Linked DNA regions of Homo sapiens: region 1 is linked to region 2. Evidence: fine-mapped expression QTL. Tissue or cell type: whole blood. Region 2 holds a variant in brackets; the other region holds the start of a gene. All regions are shown on one strand. Distances are between the middles of the regions.

Region 1 (8,105 bases), 29 kb before region 2:
ATATTATATACAGTATGTTATTATTTTTTATATTCATCTACTGTCCAAATTGATGGCAATGTTGTATATATACTAATTTAAATAATTCATATTGTTAAAAACTGTTTATTCATTTTTAAATTTAAATTTAATTTTTTTTGAGACAGAACCTCCACCCAGGCTGAAGTGCAGTAGCGTGATCTTGGCTCACTGCAACCTCTGCCTCCCAGGTTCAAGTGACCCTCCTGCCTCAGCCTCCCAAGTAGCTGGGATTACAGGTGCCTGCCACCACACTAATTTTTGTATTTTTAGTAGAGATGGGGTTTCACCGTGTTGGCCAGGCTGATCTCAAACTCCTGACCTGAAGTGATTCACCCGCCTCAGCCTCCCAAAGTGCTGGGATTAAGGCATGAGCTACCATACCCAGTCTAATTTTAATTTTAAGTTTTTTTGGTATATAGTAGGTGTATATATTTATGGGGTACCTGAGATGTTTTGATATAGGCATCCAATGTGAAATAAGCACATCATGGAGAATGGGGTTATCCATACCCTCAATCATTTATCCTTTGAGTTATAAACAATCCAGTTACACTCTTTTAAAATATACAATTATTATTGACTATAGTCACCCTATTGTGCTCTCGAATAGTATGTCTTATTCAGGCTACTTTTTTTGTACCCATTAACCACCCCCATCTCAAAAAAGAAAAAAATAAAGAGAGATGGGATTTCCTCGTATTACCCATGCTGATCTTGAACTCCTGGGCTCAAGTGATCCTCCCATCTTGGCCTTCCACAGTGCTGGAATTGCAGGTGTGAGCCACCATCCCCAGCCTGTGATCCATTTTTAATTAAGTTTGTGTATGCTGTGAGGTAGGGGATCATAGTTCATTTTTCCCACATAGGGATATCTATTTTCTTCATCACCTTTTATTGAAAATAACTTGCCTTCCCCACTAAATTAAATTGGTGTCTTCATTGAAATGGAGTAATAATCAAATGGCTCTTTTCCTGGACCCTCTATTCCGTTCCATCTATTTGTCTGCCATTATGCCAAAACCCCACTCTAGTGTATAGTAAGGGGGGATATTTTGGAAGATCAACAAATTTATCTTGTGTAACTTACTTTTATGTATGCATAAGAATATTTGGTTTAAAAATCTGGTTAAGTCTAAAAGAGCTCTTTCAGTAATAATTAAATAACTGAATCCCTGTAATCCACCATGCTCAGCCCCATTAGTAATTTTTATAGCGTCTTTATTTGGATCTAGCTCTTTCATCTTGTGTAACTCTTTTAAGTAAATGACTCCTCCCTTCTGGTACAGGTTGAATATCCATAAAAGGGTGCCTTGGCATGTGCTCAGTCCTGAAATTCTACTTTGATCTACTGCTCTCATCTTTGAAACTGCTCTAAACACTCCCCCAAATTATTGATCCTGTGGGCCTGATTATGAACTTGGCTCTTCTGACAATACTTCTCAAATCCTGTACCTTTGGTAACATCTCTCCTGACTGGCAGAGTACCCAGACACTTAATTAATGCTGATGAAAATTAAGATTTAAGCAAAGAAGAAATTGGTGTAAGAATGCAAGCCTTAGGATCTGAAACTTGATGACTGTGGGATCTAATTTCTGCTTCTTTTGCTACAAGCTCTGTTTTTGAATAATCAACTTTCAAAGACAAATTGCTTGATGAATCTCTGTATTGTCAGAATGTTTCTTTGATTTCCCATCAAAGCCATGTATGTGTAACTAGTAATTAGGTACCTACGACCTGAATATAAATTATCATTATTTCAGTAGCCCTTTATTTGTTTTTGAGAAAGGGTTTCACTATACTGCCCAGGCTAAACTTGAACTCCTTGGTTCAAGTGATCCTGCCGCCTCAGCCTCCTGAATAGCTGGGAGTAGCTGGGACTACAGGGATGTGTTATCATGCCCAGTGAAAGCCCTTTATTTTTAAAAGTTCATTTTCCTGATCTTTACATGTATTTTAATACTAAAATTAAATTTAAAAATTTTAAAAAGTACCTACTAACCAAATAATGCCACCCAATAACAATAGCATTATTTGTATTATGTTCTGGTAATATAGTGGTGAACAAGGAAGACAGGGTCTCTGATAACTGTGGAATTCTCCTTGATCACTTCTCAAGCCTCTCTTCCGGATACTATTTCTTGGATCTACAGCTGTCTTCCTTCCCCACTTCTGTAGTTCAGTCTCTCATTATTCTCTACCTCCAATAAAAAGGGGCCTCCTAACTGGTTTCTTATGCAACTACTCAACATGGTATTTCTAAAATGCAGATCTTTCGGGATGATTTTCAATTGCTCAGAGAATAAATTCCTTGACTTTCTACGTAAGGCCCTGCAGGACCAGGCCCCTGTCATTATCTCTGAGCACTCTCCATCTTGCACCCAAAGCCCCAGCAATATCTTACTGCTTTCAGTAAATACACACCGGGCTATGTGGGGTTTTGTCTGGGGAAAGGGGATGTGAGTTGTAACTAAGAGATTTATAGTCAATCTTGAAGGGAAGAGCTCATATTGGAGGCAATGGAATGCCTCAAGCTGGCTCTGAAAGTACACATTTTTTCCAGTCATAAGTAGATCACATTTGTGTGATCTTGTGATCCTCTCTCTAGCAGAGCCGTGCAGACTACCTACTTCCGGCCCTTTCTTGCCCCACGAAATTTCACATCACAACGACTTGTGGTTTTAATCCTCCGTTTTTCTGCTTCTGAAGTTACTTCAGCCTGGCAAGTCCTTTACCTCCCCGTAGGCCTGGCGAGCTGCATCACAACATTCAAGATTCACCCTAGAGCCATCTGGGAAACTTTCTTCTCCAGGTCGCCCTGCGTCCTCGCCTCCCCACCCCGTTCTTCTCGAGTCGGGTGAGCTGTCTAGTTCCATCACGGCCGGCACGGCCGCAGGGGTGGCCGGTTATTTACTGCTCTACTGGGCCCGTGAACAGTCTGGCGAGCCGAGCAGTTGCCGACGCCCGGCACAATCCGCTGCACGTAGCAGGAGCCTCAGGTCCAGGCCGGAAGTGAAAGGGCAGGGTGTGGGTCCTCCTGGGGTCGCAGGCGCAGAGCCGCCTCTGGTCACGTGATTCGCCGATAAGTCACGGGGGCGCCGCTCACCTGACCAGGGTCTCACGTGGCCAGCCCCCTCCGAGAGGGGAGACCAGCGGGCCATGACAAGCTCCAGGCTTTGGTTTTCGCTGCTGCTGGCGGCAGCGTTCGCAGGACGGGCGACGGCCCTCTGGCCCTGGCCTCAGAACTTCCAAACCTCCGACCAGCGCTACGTCCTTTACCCGAACAACTTTCAATTCCAGTACGATGTCAGCTCGGCCGCGCAGCCCGGCTGCTCAGTCCTCGACGAGGCCTTCCAGCGCTATCGTGACCTGCTTTTCGGTTCCGGGTCTTGGCCCCGTCCTTACCTCACAGGTGAGTCGGACTTGTCCCGCCCTGTTCCTGGGCCCTGAGAGTGCCTGCCTGGGGACAGTTCCCCCAGGGCTCCAGAGACGCCCTATGGGCTTTTGTCCAGCCCTCTGATCACAGGCACTCCACTTCCTCCTCGAGCTGCATTAGGTTTTCATCCAAAGATAACTACTATAGGACTACGGTTCAATCAGGAGATTAATTTATGGAAAATACTGTGCCAGCAGAAATCTAAGGTGATCCTTCTGACCGTGTTCAAGCTAGCCAGGGTCCTAGTGAGACTGTGAGCAAGGGCTGAGTAGAGACCAGAGAAAACACTCAAAATTGGGGAGACATAATACAAGAACTATGCAAAGTTACATACAAGTTTCTGGCACATAGAATGTTTGGCGGGCGGATCACGAGGTCAGGAGTTCGAGACCAGCCCGGCCAACATAGTGAAACCCCGTCTCTACCAAAAACACAAAAAATTAGCCAGGCGTGGCGGCGCGCGCCTGTAGTCCCAGCTACTCGGGATGCTGAGGCAGGAGAATCGGTTGAACCCATGAGGTGGAGGTTGTGGTGAGCTGAGATCGCGCCACTGCACTCCAGCCTGGGCAACAGAGCAAGACTCCCTCTCAGAAAAACAACCCCCCCCCCCAAACAAAACAAAACAAAACAAAAAAAGTGTAAATTGTGAAAGAAATCATAGAACATAAGGAAGTGAGTTTCCAGCGGCCACTTGGAATGGGATGGTAGATGTAATTAGCCGGGACTGAAAAGAGGGTATTCCAGGCAGGAAGAAGGGCTTGAGCAGAGGCACAAAGAATTATGATTGAGTTCAAAGTTCAGGTCTAGTGGATGTGATGAGTGGGGGCTGGGGATTGAGGAGGGATGAGGGTGGGGAAAATGTGGGGTTGAAGAGTCAAGAGCGCTTTAGACATTGGTTTCACATAAAATGGAAGGGGCTAACAGTTTTCTTTTAGGCAGCTATGTAATCAGTACTGAAAATTGTATTTGAGGATAATTATTCCACAGCACATTTGTAAGTCGAGCCAACAATGTAAAGGAATACAATTCTGCTGCATGGGTTCAAAATTTAGAAGTTTCTTGATAATCTGGAATCTAGCTCTTTGGTTATATTGTATAGATGTTATGGGGGTGGGAGCCACATTTACGGTTAAGTCTTGTAGTAATATTTTATATGATGTTTCAAGTGTGTTTAAATTACTTTCACAAAAGTTATCATTTGATATATAGAATTAAAAGCATTTAATTATACAGATGACCCTTAGAGAGTGACATTTGATTTGGGGAAAGAAACACAATCTCAGCATCAGGGTAGTCCTTAACTGGTAAAATGCATTAAGCTGGAGAGGATAAGAGGCCTGCTGTTGAGTGTGGTAGATCACATTTTCCTCTGAATCCTTCATGACAAATAATAGAGTGCCTTACCCAAGATTGGCACTCAGAATATGTTGATTTTGGTTTAGAAGAGTTTGAGCCTGGTTTATGGAAAAAAAAATCCGTCTAACTGGTATATGTCAATCCCAGTGCTGGGCACTCTGAAGGTTACAAGAAAAGTCTTAAGACCTAGGCCTAGGCTCTATAGTTCAATTGCGAAAATATGAAACAGAGGGAGGTACACAGTGAATTATAAGATTCTCAAAAGCTTTATAGGTTGTTTCCTACTATTGTATACATGAGAATAATTCCTTTCCTTTTTTTTTTTTTTTTTGAGACGGAGTCTCGCTTTATCACTCAGCCTACACTGAGGCTGAGTGCAGTGATACGATCTTGGCTCACTGCAGCCTCCGCCTCCTGGGTTCAAGCGATTCTCCTGCCTCAGCCTCCCGAGTAGGTGGGACTACACGTGCTTGCCACCACGCCCAGCTAATTTTTGTATTTTTAGTAGAGATGGGGTTTCACCATGTTGGCCAGGCTGGTCTCAAACTCCTGGCCTCAAGTGATCCACCCACCTCAGCCTCCCAAAGTGCTGAGATTACAGGCATGAGCCACCGCGCCATACCTAATTCCTATACTTCTAAATTAGGCCTTCACCTCCATTGCTATAGCACCATAGTTTAATCAAGTAGATAGAAATGGAGAGATTGTAAGATAATGGAATACTATAAATTCCCTAACAAAAGAGATTTAGAGCCAGATAAATTCAATAAGATGTTTATTTCCATATATTACCTTCCTGTAAGTTCATTAGCTTTATTAGTTGAGGGTTCTTGTCCATTGAGAGAAAATGAAAACTGGGTTGGGTGAACATTACCAAAGACTTAAAAGTAACTTCTTTCTCTATTGCTCTTCCCATGGAGTCTTCCCTTTGGAATGTAGTTTCCTGTGGAGGCTTTTAGGTGACTTTGAGCTAAAATCCTAGTTCTGCAGAAACAAGGATGAAGCAATAGCATGGGAAACAAATAGAGGTAGAGCAATACCAACAAGGCTGAAGCCAGAATACATTTCTTTATGAGTCTGATTTTAGTAAAGAAGGCAACATATGCAGGTTAAATCTTAACTAACAGATTTCCATCCTCTTCCTCCAAACAACTTATTTGTAGGCTCTGGGCCAGTAGGTTTTGTTTGTTTGTTTGTTTTTGTTTTTTTGAGACAGAATCTTGCTTAGTCACCTAGGCTGGAGTTCAGTGGCACAATCTTGGCTCACTGCAACCTCTGCCTCCCGGTCTCAAGCAATTCTCCCACCTCAGCCTCCTGAGTAGCTGGGACCACAGGAGCATGCCACCACACCTGGCTAATTTTTGTATTTTCTGTAGATGGGGTTTCGCCATGTTGCCCAAGCTGGTCTCCAATTCCTGAGCTCAAGTGATCCCCCTGCTTTGGCCTACCAAAGTCCTGGGATTACAGGGTGGAATGAGCCACCTGACCAGCCCAGTGTTTTTCCTAATGCAATACAACTTCTGGTTTTTGTCTGAACCTGAAACTAAGAATTCATACTCCCTTTTCTGAAAAAGAAGTCTGGTATTGAGGTTCAGTTCTATTTTGAATTCACCTTCAAGGGTTAGTCCCACCAGTTGCTAAATGGTCTGTGAAGGTGTTTAGTATTTGCCACCTTTCTTTGTCATTGAGAGGTGTTTCTACCAATTGGAGGGTGTGTGTTGCATGTTGTTGAACCTGTTAAATAGACTTATTTTAGGAACTAGATACTTGAATGAATCTAGTTCCCTGTTTGATTATTAAGCCACATCCTGTTTGCAAAGCAAAGATGTGATTATTTGGAATTTGGAATGGCACCCATCTAATGTTGCTCCAGACATTTAATAAGCATGGTGTGGAGCATGGTGCTTGATGGAGCTGATAAAGTCCAAATTTTTCCAAGTAAAGTGGCTAAGTCTAATTCTGCCATTAGACTGCATTTTTTTTTTTTTTTTGAGATGGAGTCTTGCTCTGTTGCCCAGGCTGGAATGCAGTGGTGTGATTTTGACTCACTGCAACCTCCACCTCCTGGGTTCAAGTGATTATCCTGCCTCAGCCTCCCAAGTAGCTGGGAATTCAGGCACCCACCACCATGCCTGGCTAATTTTTTATTTTTTAGTAGAGACGGGGTTTAGTAGCGATGGGGTTTCACCACGTTGGCCAGACTGGTCTCGAACTCCTGGCCTCATGTGATCTGCCCACCTCAAGATTACAGGTGTGAGCCACTGCACCTGGCCATGACTGCATTCTTCTTTGCTTTTCCTGAAACTGGTTGATAGAAGCCATAGTATATCATAGATATTATAAGGTTCCCATCCTGGTCTGATGTTCACCTGCACATCCCTGTGAGTTGCTGAGGATGCCATTGTCCTTCAACAGAATAATCCTGCCCCCCTTCTCCAGCCCTTTTATTCTGGAATGGAAGTAAGATTATTATATAAGAGCCTGTGTCCTTCTGCAGCCATTATCAGTATTTGATTTGCTCATCCTCAGATATTAAAGAAGTGACTAAATTAATAAATGGCATAGTTCATTATAATCTGGATCTCCTAAAATACCTTCTTTGGCCATTTCTTCTGTATCTGGAACGTTGTAGATATGTAGTAATTATTTGTAAAATATATTAACGTTAAAGAGCTACTTTGTGTAAACATTTGTAAGAAGGCTTTATGGGTTTGGGTTTTGTTTTCTTTTTTTTTTTTTTTTTTTTTTCTTTTAGAGACAGGGTCTTATTTTGTCACCCAGTCTGGAGTGCAGTGGCACAAACACAGCCCACTGCAGCCTCGACCTCCGAGGCTCAAGCTGTCCTCCCATCTCAGCCTCTTGAGTAGCTGGGACTACAGGTGCATAGCTAATTTTTGTAGAGATGGAGTACCACCATGTTGCCCCAGCTGGTCTCGAACCCCTGGGCTCAACCACTCTGCCTGCTTCAGCCACCCAAAGTGTTGGGATTACAGGTCTGAGAAGATCATCAAAAAGATATGATTTGCAGGTTTTCATTGAGGATTACCTTTCCTTTCAGGTTACCAATTTGGAGTGTAAGTGTGTGATTCCAGGCAAAGGATAATCACACTATGCTGCTTATTGTGTGATCCCAACTCGTGCTGCTCTTAACTCAGCATGCAGTGAGAGATGCATTGGGATTGCATCTAGGAGGGAAACAGATAAGGTCAAGCAGCTGGGCTGGGGAGAAAGAATAAGGCCGATTAGTTCTCTCCACTTTAATTGGGCTAGCGGCTAACTATACTTTAACCTTTC
Region 2 (8,105 bases):
TACTATTAAAATATGTACTGTTAGACTATGTAAGGGCACATTTTTCTCAGATGCCGTTGCAGGTAGTTGTGCCTAGAGTGGATGCTGAGGAATCTGACCACCAGGGTAGAATCTGAAAGAAAGAAGCCCAAGGGCAGCCTGCAGAGGTCAGAGTCAGTCAGTACCCCTGCTCCCTTTCTTCTGTATACCCTCAGCCCTCCAGTGTGAGCCCCCAACACAGGTTAAATGACAGTTGAAAAGGGCTACTGGCCTGATAGAAAACTGAAGATATTGGCCGGGCGTGGTGGCTCATGTCTGTAATCCCACCACTTTTGGAGGCCAAGGCGGGTGGATCACCTGAGGTCAGGAGTTCAAGACCAGCCTGGCCAACATGGTGAAACTCCATCTCTACTAAAAATACAAAAATTAGCCAGGCGTGGTGGCAGGCGCCTGTAATCCCAGCTACTCGGGAGGCTGAGGCAGGAGAATCGCTTGAACCCAGGAGGCAGAGGTTGCAGTGAGCCAAGATCATGCCACTGTACTCCAGCCTGGGCGACAGAGCAAGACTCTGTCTCAAAAACAAACAAACAACAACAACCAAAAAAAAACCCTGAAGATATCTTGTGACCTCAGCGTCAGGAAGTAGTCTCTGGGCCAAGGGAGATATCCCTTAGCAAATGTAAAAAGATTCTGGGTGATGGTTGACCCCACCTACAGGAGGAGATAGAGAAGAAAGATTTTGCCAGTTTGGCTGGATTAGGCTCTCTCTCTGCCTCAAGGCCTGTGAGGAGAGCAGCCTTGGGAGCAAGGGTAGCACCTGCTAGAAGCAGTGTGTCCAGGCAAGAGTGTGCGCACTGACAGTTGTCTGGCTGGAACTTAGCCTCTGCCTATGATTGTGGATATATTTGTATCTTTTTACTGTGACTAAATGGTGGTGACTACCAGTGTCTGTGAGTGCCTAAGTGTGCCTACCTAAATGTGTGTGATGTTTATGAATACACTTGTCTTGCTTTGTGTGACTCGTGTCCTTACGTGTAGGACTGTGCGTGGGGGTTTATGTATTTGTGACACTCATATGGGGTTTTCTCTTGGCTTAGGTATCCCTGGATTACTGACTCCTTGCTACTCTGGGTCTGAGCCCTCTGGCACCTTTGGACCAGTGAATCCCAGTCTCAATAATACCTATGAGTTCATGAGCACATTCTTCTTAGAAGTCAGCTCTGTCTTCCCAGATTTTTATCTTCATCTTGGAGGAGATGAGGTTGATTTCACCTGCTGGTATGAGCCCTTTGATCTTCCCACTGTGGCCTGATCAGTTGCTTACTCAGAATAGAAGTTAGCACCCGAGGGGCTGCTTAGCTCAGCTGCTGCTCTCAGGGGTCTGTATGGGCTCACATTGCTCAGGTCTTAGGCCTTCCTCTGCCCATCTACGTAGAGATCCTACCTGATTTTGGCAAGGCTTTCACTGTGAACCTCTTCCTTCCTACTCTCATATCCTTGAGGTATTGATAGAAAAAACAGCCCTGGGCACAGAATTGTCTTGGAAAAGTTCGGGATAGAGAAAAATAATCCCTGTTTATGAAGGCTTAAAATTGTCTAGTTGAAGAGTCAAGACACAGAATTCAAGACTAATAGGTGACAATGTCTAATTAGTATTCAGTTGTAAAGTCCAAACCCTTGGTTCTAGTAAGCTCAAAAGAGGCTGAGGGGCTTCTTTGAGAAGAGGGCGCTAGAGCTGAATCTGGGGAAATCAATTTGGCTTTTTGGAGATGTGAGCAGGGGAAAATATTCCAGAAGGAGAACAATGTGAGCAAAATGTGGACGTCATAACGCAAGGGATCTGCAGCAGGTGTTAGACAGCAAGGCTTGTCATCCAACTGGAAGAGCAGATAGGAAAGCCGAAATCCAGTGTGCTGGAGCTTCAAGTTAAGACCTTGGATTCTCATGTTGCAGTCCAGAGAGGATTAATATGTTTTCTCTTTGGGAGTTTGAACTTAAAACTCTTCAGGTCCAGACTCAGCCTTTCTCAGCCTGTGTCAACAGCCCACCTGCTTCACATAACTTTGCTTGGCCACACTTTCCACATGTAGGGCTTCTGAGATCCTTGCTTATTTGATTTTTCAGGTGAAAAGAGGAAGTTATAGGGGGCCAGGTGACTAATCCCCAGGCATTAGGCTTTCAGGATGTTGAAAGATTAATCTTCATTTTCTCTTGGGATTCAGGAAGTCCAACCCAGAGATCCAGGACTTTATGAGGAAGAAAGGCTTCGGTGAGGACTTCAAGCAGCTGGAGTCCTTCTACATCCAGACGTGAGGAAGGAAGGAGGGTGGGTGGGGTCCCTTGGGGGTCCTCCTGTGGGGTCCTCCCTTTCCATACCGAGTCAGGCCCTGCTTGGCCACTGTCTGGTCCCTGCAGGGTTCCCTTGTCCTTTGTCCCATCCTTTCAGATTTGGAGTGGTTGGTTTTCAGCCCAGGGGAAAGACACTGCTTAATGAGGAATAGGCCCCTGGCCAGGCTCAACCCCTAGAGCACTGGCACAAACAGTCTAGAACCCATCTGAGCTAAGCAGACACTTACTAGACACTCCTCTCCTCTCCAGGCTGCTGGACATCGTCTCTTCTTATGGCAAGGGCTATGTGGTGTGGCAGGAGGTGTTTGATAATAAAGTAAAGGTGAGCCGGGGCAGAGAAGAGAAGAAGCCACCAGCAGTGCCTCCCTCTGGTCTCCCCAGCTCCTCCCTGCCTCTACAGAGACTGATCCTCCTGGTTTGGATTGGGCTTTAATGGTCGGAGCACTCTCCTTTTCTCTCTAGAAAGGCCACAGAGTGCTGGGTGCAGTGGCTCACGCCTGTAATCCAAGCACTTTGGTAGGCCAAGGCAGGGGGATTGCTTGAGCCTAGGAGTTCAAGACCAGCCTGGCCAACATAGCAAAACCCTCATCTCTACAAAAAATACAAAAATCAGGAGGCTGAGGTTGGGGTACTGCTTGAGCCCAGGAGGCAGAGGTTGCTGTGAGCCAAGATGTGCCTCTGCACTCAACCCTGGGCAACAGAGTGAGACCCTGCCTCAAAAAAACCAAAGGCCGCTGTGGTATGAGCCCTGGGTTTATGTGTCAGAGTTTCTATCTTCCCTCACTACAAACTTAATTAAGAACTATTTCTGCTGTTAGGTTACTTGGATAGGCTGGATTTTTCTTCCTAAATCATAGATGAGGGTCTTCTGGGTCTGTGGGACCAAGGTTACCTTCTCCTTTATTGTTGATCAGTAAGATCCCAGTCTCCTGTCACATGCAAGGACTCTTCAGGAACCTTGTCCCGTCCCCAGAAACATCTGGAGACTTTTGGACATGGCAGCTCCTGGGTCCCACTGCTTGCCTCCCTCAGCTCACAGCTGGTATTACTAGCTCTGTGTGGACAGGGAGGCTGCAGAGGGACGGGGAGGAGAGCTGCAGGGAGGCCTCTTAGGGCCCTGGATTCCTTGGCCTCTGTCCTGAGGTGTGAGCTCAATGGTCAGGAGTCACAGAGACATACTTTGCTGCTGGGGAACAGAGGGAGCACATACCTGTTGTCCCATGTTGCCTGTGTATGAATAAGGCCCAGGAATCTCCTCAGCTTTGTGTCCTTACTGCCATTTGACCTTTTATAACAGATTCAGCCAGACACAATCATACAGGTGTGGCGAGAGGATATTCCAGTG[A/G]ACTATATGAAGGAGCTGGAACTGGTCACCAAGGCCGGCTTCCGGGCCCTTCTCTCTGCCCCCTGGTACCTGAACCGTATATCCTATGGCCCTGACTGGAAGGATTTCTACATAGTGGAACCCCTGGCATTTGAAGGTGAAAGCAGAGAGCTCTCCTTGCTAACCAAAGGAGGCTGGGTTGGGGCACAGGATGGGAGGCAGGAAGGTCTGGGCCAGACATTTCCAGTTAGTAAATGAAACAACTTAGCTGGGGTGAGGGCCACATTGGGAAGGTGGTTGAGAGGGACCCTGGAGTTACCCCACCATCACCAGACTGTTGTTGCTTGTTTTCCCTCAGGTACCCCTGAGCAGAAGGCTCTGGTGATTGGTGGAGAGGCTTGTATGTGGGGAGAATATGTGGACAACACAAACCTGGTCCCCAGGCTCTGGTAAGGGTTTTCGGGGGGGAGGTGGAGGGTTGGGCCTGAGAGCAGGAGTTCTCCCTTAGAGACCCAATCCCATCTAGCCACCTCTGGACTAGTACCCTTCTTTCAGGCCTGAGAGAGAGCAGGCCGTGCAACGAGCCTTCTGAAGATTTGTGTGCAATATTCACTCTCCACATGACTTCCGTCTATATCCCTCCAGCTGCCCTTTGGTATGTGGGATAGGGATTGTTAACCTTACTTCCCAGAGAGATAATGAGGCCTGGAGAACATAGGTGAGTTGCTCAAGACCCAGCACAAGCATCCATGATTCCTGTAATAAGGCTTCCCTCTGCTGTTTTCACTGCAGCCTTACCAAGTATGGTTGGGTGTGCAAAGTTTACATTTTAAGGACCTCTGCTGCTGCCACTGTCATTGTGGTTAATGATGGCTTTAAGGTTTATTCTTATTCCCATATCTTTGAGAGAGGAAGAGAGTGGGATTGCTACCCACATTTTAATGAAGGTGGAGCTGAGCCGTAGAACTCTCTGGGAGCCATCCAACCTGGCTGTGGCTCATAACAAGGTATTGATCACTTCCTTTGGCCTGAGTGAGTCCAGGGTGCCTAGACAAGAGGTAGCAGCCTGTGGATGTCCAGCACCTTTGCAGGGAATACAGGGCCCAATCTGGCACATGCCCCTTTTCCTCCAGGCCCAGAGCAGGGGCTGTTGCCGAAAGGCTGTGGAGCAACAAGTTGACATCTGACCTGACATTTGCCTATGAACGTTTGTCACACTTCCGCTGTGAATTGCTGAGGTAAGCAAGCTGTGGGGCCTTCGCAAGGCGGAGCAGGCCAGATCCAGGGCTGGGGAACCCCTTAGAGAGAGGAAGACAATAATTAACAATAGCTAACACTTACAGAGGCTTATAGTCAGCCCTCATCCACGGATTCAACCAACTGCGATAAAAAGTATTCAGGAAAAAAAAAATACAACAAAAAATGGTACAAATAAAAAATACTGTATAACAACTATTTACATAGCATTTATATTGTATTAGGTATAAGTAATCTAAGATCATTTCAAGTATATGGGAAGTTGTACATTGGTTATATGCAAATACTATGTCATTTTTATATAAGGGACTTGAGCATCCTTGGATTTTGGTATCCACGGGGGTCCTGAAACAAATCCCCTGTGGATACTGAGGGACAACTGTATTTTGTGGCAAACACTGTGCTAAGTTTGTTACAAATATTGTCTCATTTAGTCTTCACCACAGCCCCATGAGACAGGTGCATTTTAGAGATAGACACTGAAGCACAGAGTTCAGGACCTTGCCCAAAGTCACTAAGAAGCAGGATTTGAACCAGGCTGACTTACAGGATGTCATGACACCTTTGCCTCTGTCAGGGATGTGCCTGTGTAAGATAGTCATTTCCCTGATTCCTTCGTTGGCTAGGTCTTGAGTACTTGGGGGACATAGCCTAGTGCAGAGCAGAGTCCTGGGCTGAGAGTCAAGCATGATGGTGTCTAAGCCTCAATTATGTCATTCACTGGGTAACTTCCAGCTGGTTCTCTAAGCATGTTGCTTACTTGGATGATAAGGGAAGCATGCCTAGAGGTCCCCTAAGGAGATTGGTCAGGTTATAGACTGAGACCCAAGGACAGGATTTCGCATCCATGTTCATGGACAGGACAGCACCTAAGTCCCCCAGTGCCACCATATTTACAGCATTTTAGAGTCAGGAACAGAGGGCTAAGTAGACCAAGAGCATTGGCTGCCTTTCAGACATCCATCTATATTCTAAAGGGATTGAGTTATTTGGGGTTAGGGTACAGAGATGGGCAGGATATAAATAGATGTCGCCAACGTTTCTGGATCTCCAAGACCTGTATCAGAATCACCTGAGGCACCTGTTCAGCTTGCAGATTCTTGCCAATACTTTGCCCCACCCCAGGTGAGAATCTCTGGAATTGAGATTCCCAGGTGCATTTGGTGTACAGTGACAGTTTGAGAGTCACCGAAATGGGGAAGGAGAGACTGTTGACTGGTGTGAAAAGTGTTGCTGGGGCCCCTTCTGAGGGGCTTATCTTGCCATTTCTTCATGTCCTCTTGCAGGCGAGGTGTCCAGGCCCAACCCCTCAATGTAGGCTTCTGTGAGCAGGAGTTTGAACAGACCTGAGCCCCAGGCACCGAGGAGGGTGCTGGCTGTAGGTGAATGGTAGTGGAGCCAGGCTTCCACTGCATCCTGGCCAGGGGACGGAGCCCCTTGCCTTCGTGCCCCTTGCCTGCGTGCCCCTGTGCTTGGAGAGAAAGGGGCCGGTGCTGGCGCTCGCATTCAATAAAGAGTAATGTGGCATTTTTCTATAATAAACATGGATTACCTGTGTTTAAAAAAAAAAGTGTGAATGGCGTTAGGGTAAGGGCACAGCCAGGCTGGAGTCAGTGTCTGCCCCTGAGGTCTTTTAAGTTGAGGGCTGGGAATGAAACCTATAGCCTTTGTGCTGTTCTGCCTTGCCTGTGAGCTATGTCACTCCCCTCCCACTCCTGACCATATTCCAGACACCTGCCCTAATCCTCAGCCTGCTCACTTCACTTCTGCATTATATCTCCAAGGCGTTGGTATATGGAAAAAGATGTAGGGGCTTGGAGGTGTTCTGGACAGTGGGGAGGGCTCCAGACCCAACCTGGTCACAGAAGAGCCTCTCCCCCATGCATACTCATCCACCTCCCTCCCCTAGAGCTATTCTCCTTTGGGTTTCTTGCTGCTTCAATTTTATACAACCATTATTTAAATATTATTAAACACATATTGTTCTCTAGGCACTGTGGTAGTGGGTTTTTTTGTTGTTTTTGTTTTTGAGACTGTCTCAAAAACTCTGTCGCCCAGGCTGACAGTGCAGTGGCACAATCTTGGCTCACTGCAGCCTCTGCCTCCTGGGTTCAAGCGATTCTCGTGCATCAGCCTCCTGAGTAACTGGAATTAATAGGCACGTGCCACCATGTCCATCTAATTCATATATATATATTTTTTTTTTCTGAGACGGAGTCTCACTGTCACACAGGCTGGAGTGCAGTGGCACGATCTCGACTCACTGCAAGCTCCACCTCCTGGGTTCACGCCATTCTCCTGCCTCAGCCTCCCCAGTAGCTGGGACTACAGGCGCCCGCCACCACGCCCGGCTAATTTTTTGTATTTTTAGTAGAGATGGGGTTTCTCCGTGTTAGCCAGGATGGTCTCGATCTCCTGACCTCGTGATCCGCCCGCCTTGGCCTCCCAAAGTGCTGGGATTACAGGCGTGAGCCACCGCGCCCGGCCGAATTCATCTATTTTTAGTAGAGATGGGGTTTCACTATATTGGCCAGGCTGGTCTTGAACTCATGACCTCAGATGTTCACTTGTCTTGGCCTCCCAAAGTGCTGGGATTAGAGGCGTGAGCCACCGCACGCGGGCCTGTGGTAAATTGTTGAATTTGAAGGACTCAGAGGCCCTGGTCAATTCCAAAATAACGTAGGCGACTTCCATCCCCCTCCTCCCAACCATTTTCAGCCCAAAGCATCTTCGCAGGGAATGGATGGCTGCGCGGAGGTGGGCGGTGGCTCTGGAGAGGGTCTTTGCAGGTGTGATTTTCTCTAGAAGGAAATGTCTCGTCGTGGACCCAGACTGCCCCCTCCTGGTTTCAGATGCAGAAGTGATACTGTAAGCCAGAGGCGGGGGCAGTAATGCATCGCAGCCATTTTAGGTGAGGATTTCCTTGGCGGTTATTTGTTAAGTTCTTTGGCTGGGCCCTGGGCTGGGGTAACAATGGACAGGTTCCAGGCATTTTTTTCAGAAAGCTTCCAGTGTAGTGGATACAGAAACTTCAGGAAGGCAGGGCTGAGAAGGATCTGAGTAAAACTCGGTCCTTCAACACCATCCTTCAGCCCCTGGGTCATGTTCCTTCGAGGTCCTGGTGGGAGGTAGACAAGCCTAGCCTTGTGCTGTTCCTGTAAGGACAGGGTGGGCATTTTCTACCAACAGAATTCTT

The links. PIP is the estimated chance that this variant, and not a neighbour inherited with it, causes the effect.
Region 1: it holds the start of HEXA, and the variant in region 2 is fine-mapped to the expression of HEXA in whole blood (TOPMed, PIP above 0.99).

What each region holds. Positions count from the first base shown.
Region 1 is chr15:72,371,046-72,379,150 of GRCh38, reverse strand. It overlaps HEXA (hexosaminidase subunit alpha), which reads left to right and starts at 3,137. Exons shown (of 14, transcript NM_000520.6): 1 at 3,137-3,431. The coding sequence starts at 3,179. HEXA-AS1 (HEXA antisense RNA 1) reads right to left here and starts at 3,038. Exons shown (of 1, transcript NR_027262.1): 1 at 363-3,038. RefSeq lists enhancers at 2,378-2,427, 2,758-2,897, 2,789-3,345, 3,346-3,901.
Region 2 is chr15:72,342,231-72,350,335 of GRCh38, reverse strand. It overlaps HEXA (hexosaminidase subunit alpha), which reads left to right. Exons shown (of 14, transcript NM_000520.6): 8 at 1,077-1,257; 9 at 2,202-2,288; 10 at 2,578-2,650; 11 at 3,626-3,809; 12 at 4,011-4,101; 13 at 4,786-4,890; 14 at 6,196-8,105. The coding sequence ends at 6,259. Among named protein-coding and RNA genes, the nearest start is that of CELF6, 26 kb to the right of the region's middle. RefSeq lists an enhancer at 7,479-7,978. The variant A/G (reference allele first, on the strand shown) is at 3,674.